Linked DNA regions of Homo sapiens: region 2 is linked to region 1. Evidence: fine-mapped expression QTL. A gene starts in region 1. The other region holds a variant in brackets. All regions are shown on one strand. Distances are between the middles of the regions.

What was found. PIP is the estimated chance that this variant, and not a neighbour inherited with it, causes the effect.
Region 2: its variant is the best candidate, but not a certain one, in a credible set for the expression of FCER2 in whole blood (INTERVAL, PIP 0.78).

Annotation. Positions count from the first base shown.
Region 1 is chr19:7,700,955-7,703,739 of GRCh38, forward strand. It overlaps FCER2 (Fc epsilon receptor II), which reads right to left and starts at 1,177. Exons shown (of 11, transcript NM_001220500.2): 1 at 1,061-1,177. It overlaps LOC105372262 (a long non-coding RNA gene), which reads right to left. Exons shown (of 5, transcript XR_936296.2): 5 at 2,126-2,167. RefSeq lists an enhancer at 1,064-1,173.
Region 2 is chr19:7,723,143-7,725,927 of GRCh38, forward strand. No RefSeq gene overlaps it. Among named protein-coding and RNA genes, the nearest start is that of CLEC4G, 7.6 kb to the right of the region's middle. The variant T/TCA (reference allele first, on the strand shown) is at 1,330.

The DNA of each region.
Region 1 (2,785 bases):
CACCCACCACCACACCTGGCTAATTTTTGTATTTTAGTAGAGACAGGGTTTCACCATATTGATCAGGCTGGTCTCGAACTCCTGACCACAGGTGATCTGCCCTCCTCAGCCTCCCAAAGTGCTAGGATTACAGGCGTGAGCCACTGCGCCCGACCAAGTCCTCTGACTTTAAAGCATCTACTATGTGCTGAGGAGCATGGGACTTGGGGTCCTTCAGGCCTGGAGGTCACGGGCTACCTTCTTTCGCTGCTTGACTATAGGTAAGTCCCTTCTCTCGGAGCCTCAGGGAGGTGGGGTGTGGCGCGGCCAGGCTCTGATTAGCGGCAGCTCAAGCTGGCCCTTTTGACATTGTGAGAGGAACCCAGAGACCATCCTGGGACTGGAACTGTCCAGGGAGGCAGCTGGACAGACCTGAGTCCGAGTCCTGGCTTCTTCCTGGATGAGCAGCTCAGTTTGCTCATCTGTAAATTGGGAGTATTCAAAGCACCAGCACACAGTAGGTGCTCAGTAAACCTACTGGCAGGATGCTGGGGGACTGTCCTCATTCTGTGGGGCCTCTCTCAGTGGAACTGAGGTTCCAAGAGGGTAAGTCATTTGTCCCCATCACGCAGTGGTGGGACTGGAACTCAAACCCGGGACCCTTGAGCTGGGAGCCCATTTGCTCAATCATCTGGAGACATAATCTCATGGTGGGGTGTCTACTGGTAAGTGCTGGGTGGCAGGATCCCAACTCCAGGCCGTCCTTCTAACCCAAGAGGTCCTGCCTCTGCCTAGAGTCTTCCATGGCTCCCCAGGGCCCTCTATGATCGGCCCAGCGCACTCACCAAGCTCATCTCAGACCAGATGGCCTGCTTTCACTTCCCCAAATCAGGGACTCGAATGCCTCGAGATTCTGTCCACACTGCGGCCCCCACCCCCGCCCCCTCACCACCCACCACCTCCCTTCTCTGGTTGTGACCTCCTGCTGGTCATCCCTTGAGGCTCAGCCCAAGGTCGTTTCTTCCAAGGGCGCTTTGATCTCCACTTCCCATGGCCAACCCCCAACACACCAGATACGTACTCACTTAGTGGAGTTTGGAGCCTGTGTCTGTCCTCCTAGTGTGTTGGGGTCGACCAGAGCGATTGGCAGGGACCGTCAGAGACAGAGGTTTAAGCAGGAAGAGAGACACTTTCTTCTGAAAGTAGAGCCACTGACAGCTTCTATTTTCATAGACCTAAATATGGGCTTGCCACCCGGATAACATTACACGCATGGCCTCTCCTGGTGCTCCCCACACCCGGGTGAAGTCCGTGTTATTATTATCTCCATTTCTCAGGTAAGAGAATTGGGTGAGAACTAGAGATGTTAAGCAGCAAGTTCCCACAGGGCTGAAGGAGGTGAGTGGTAGCGTCAAGATGTGAACCACTGTTACTGCACACTGAATCATACCACTATGGCCGATCACAGAGGGCCCTGGGGAGCCACGGAAGGCTCTAGGCAGAGGCAGGGCCTCTTGGGTTAGAAGGACGGCCTGGAGTTGGGATCCTGCCACCCGGCACTTACCAGCAGACACCCCACCATGAGATTATGTCTCTTGATGATTGAGCAAATAGGCTCCCAGGTCAAATGTCCCAGGTTTGAGTCCCAGCAAGAAAAAAGGGAAGAGGAGAGAGAGGCAGAGGAAGGGGAAAAAAAAGACAGAAGGAAGGAGAGGGAGAAGGAGGAGTAGGAGGGAAGGAGGGAAGCGGGGGGAAAGAAAGATACGTGAGATAATATTCAGGTCAAATATGGACAGTTTTGGCTGGGCACGGTGGCTCACGCCTGTAATCCCAGCACTTTGGGAGGCTGAGGTGGGAGGATCACTTAAGCCTGGGAGTTCAAGACCAGCCTGGACAACATAGCAAGCCGTTGTCTCTACAAAAACTATAAAAACTAGCAGGGCATGGTGGTGCATGCCTGTGATCCCAGCTACTGGGGAGGCAGAGGTGAGTGGATCACTTGAGCCCAGGAGTTCAAGATCAGCCTGGGCAACACAGTGAGATGAAAGAAAGAAAGAGAGAGAGAAAGAGAGAGAGAGAGACCGGGCACAGTGGCTCACGCCTGTAATCCCAGCACTTTGGGAGGCCGAGGCAGGTGGATCATCTGAGGTCAGGAGTTCAAGGCCAACATGGTGAAACCCTGTATCTACTGAAAATACAAAAAAAAAAAAAAAAAAAAAAAAATTAGCTGGGCATGGTGGTGGGCACCTGTAATCCTAGCTACTCGGGAGGCTGAGGCAGGAGAATCGCTTGAATCCGGGAGGCAGAGGTTGCGGTGAGCCGAGATCGCGCCATTGCATTCCAGCCTGGGCAACAAAAGCTAAACTCTGTCTCACAAAAAAAAAAAAGAAAAGAAAAAAGAAAGAAAAACAGAAAAGAAACACCAAACTCCATCCCAGCCCCATCCTGGAACTAAGACTTCATCCCCATGTCCTCACAACATGGCCCAGCTGGACTTATTCCCAAGCTTCCTCCTCCTTCTCCTCGTGTGTCCCCATTGGTGGGACAGTCCGTCCATCCACCCAGACACCCCGGCCCAGGTCCAGGCCTTGTCCAAGCACTTCCCGATCTTCCACCCCACCGCTCACCCAGCACCCGCGCCTGGCTCGTCTCAAAAAAATAACCTGCTTCTCCCCATCCCCACAGCTGCTCCCTCTTCCCCCTGGACCAGGTGACATCCCCCTCTTAGGGTTCCCCCTGCCTGGTTTGCCTTGTCCCTGGGACTGCCTCCTCCATGGCCTCCCCACTCTCATCCTGCCCCCATGAC
Region 2 (2,785 bases), 22 kb after region 1:
CCACCTGGGAGTCTATCTCAGATGGCTCTGCCCTGTGCTGTGATGCTATGATGGTTAACACCTGGTGTCAACTTGACCGGATGGAGGGAGATGCCTGGATGGCTGGTGAAGCATTGTTTCTGGGTGTGTCTGTGAGGATGTTATCAGAGGAGGTTGATATTTGAGTCCGTGGGCTGGGAGAGGAAGACCCATCCTCAATGTGAGTGGGCACCATCCCATCGGCCGCCAGCGTGGCTAGAACAAAGCAGGTGGAAGAAGGCGGGAGAAGCTGGCTTGCTCGCTGAGTCAGCTCCCTCTCTCTTCCCCTGCTGTGCCAATCACTTGGTTTCCTCTCCTCCTACCCTTGGACATCAGGCTCTAGGTTCTTTGGCCTTTGAACTCTGGCACTTGCACCAGTGGCCTCCCAGGTGTTCTCGGGCCTTTGGCTGCAGACTGAAGGTTGCACTGTCTCCTTCCATGATTTTTGAGGCTTTTGGACTTGGACTGAGCCACACTACCACTTTCTGTCTTTCCCGGGCTTGCAGACAGCCTACTATGGGACTTCGCCTTATAATTGTGTGAGCTAATTCTCCCAAATAAACTCCCTTTAATATTGTGTTAGGCTGTTCTTTTTTTTTTTTTTTCCTCAAGATGGTGTCTCATTCTGTCACCCAAGCTGGAGTGCAATGGTGTGATCTCAGCTCAGTGCAACCTCCACCTCCCAGGTTCAAGTGATTCTCCTGCCTCAGCCTCCCAAGTAGCTGGGATTACAGGCACCCGCCACCACACCTGGCTAATTTTTGTATTTTTAGTAGAAATGGGGTTTCAACATATTGGCCAGGCTGGTCTCGAACTCCTGACCTCAAGTGATCTGCCCGCCACGGCCTCCCAAAGTGCTGGGATTACAGGCGTGAGCCACCACACCCAGCTGTGTTAGGCCATTCTTGCATTGCTATAAAGAGATACCTGAGACTGGGTAATTTAGAAGAAAAGAGGTTTAATTGGCTCATGATTCTACAGGCTGTCCAGGAAGCATAGCAGAGATATCTGCTTCTGGAGGGGCCTCAGGAAGCTTCCAATCATGGCAGAAGACAAAGGCGAAGCAGGTGTCTCACATGGCGAAAGCAGGAGCAAGAGACAGCGTGGCAGGGGAGGTATCACACACTTTTGAACAACCAGATTTTATGTGAACTTTGAGTGAGAGCTCACTTATCACCATGGGGATGGTCCAAGCCATTCACGAAGAATCTGCCCCTATGATGCAAAACACTTCCCACCAGCCCCCACCTCCAGCACTGGGGATACATTTCAACATGAGATTTGGGTGGGGACAAATATCCTAACTATATC[T/TCA]CACACACACACACACACACACACACACACACGCATATCCTATCAGTTCAGTCCTGGACAACCCTGGCTAACACAGATTTGTGATGACCTGCAATATACCATGTCCTCATCCCTGGATCCTGTGAACATCACTTTATATGGCAAAAGACACTTTGCAGACGTGATGATGGATTTCAAGATGGGAGGAGCTCGTGTGGTAAAGAATTTGTCCCTGGTTCCTGCTAGGAAGTGTCTAAGTCCTTGGAATTTTCCAAGTGCTGTGAGTCTTTGTTATTCATCAGGGCCCTGGACCACACTTGGGTTTATATGAGGGGGTGGCTTAGGATGGGTGCTGGTCATGCCAGATACATCAACCATGAGGGTTGGAATTTGCAGCCACTTGACCAAAAGGGGGACTGGAGATAAAGTTCAATCACAAGGCCAACGATTCAGTCAATCTTTCCTGTGTAATGAGACCCCACTAAAAACTCCCGAGGCCTTGTGAGGTGGCTCATGCCTGTAATCCCAGCACTTTGGGAGGCCAAGGCAGGAGGATCACTTGAGCTCAGGAGCTCAAGACCAACCTGAACAATATGGTGAAACCCCGTCTCTACAAAAAATACAAACATTAGCTGGACAGGGTGGTGACATGTGCCTGTAGTTCCAGCTACTCGAGAGGCTGAGAGGTGGGAGGATCACTTGAGCCCAGAAGGTTGAGGCTGCAGTGAGCTATGATTATGCCACTGCACTCCAGCCTGGGCAACAGGGCAAGACCGGGTCTCAAAAAAAAAAAACAAACAAAACTGAAACACTGAAGGAGTAATTGGATCAATCCTGCCTACATACTGAAACCCCAAAAAAACTCAGGACACCGAGCTCTGGAGCTTCCTGGCTGGTGAACCCATCACCCTGAGAGTGGGGAAGGCATAGAGAGAGTGATGTGTGCTGACGTTATGGGGAAGGACACAGGAGCTCCGTGTTTGGGACCTTCCCAGACCTCACCCTATGTATCTTCTCATTTGGCAGGTCCTGATTTGTATTTTGTTAAGAAAACTGAAATCAGGGCCAGGCACAGTGGCTCATGCCTGTAATCCCAGCACTTTGGGAGGCCAAGGCGGGTGGATCACCAGATCAAAAGAGTGAGACTATCCTGGCTAACATGGTGAAACCCCATCTCTACTAAAAATATAAAAATTAGCCAGGCATGGTGGTGGCGGGCGCCTGTAGTCCCAGCTACTTGGGAGGCTGAGGCAGGAGAATTGCTTGAACCCGGGAGGCAGAGGTTGCAGTGAGCTGAGGTCGCACCGCTGCACTCCAGCCTGGGCGAAAGAGCGAGACACTGTCTCAAAAAACAAACAAAAAAACAAAACAAAACAAAGAACAAAACAAAACAAAAAACAAACTGAAATCGTAAGCATAGCATTTCCTAAGTTCTGGGAGTCATTCTAGTGAATTATGGAACCTGAAGGGGTCATGA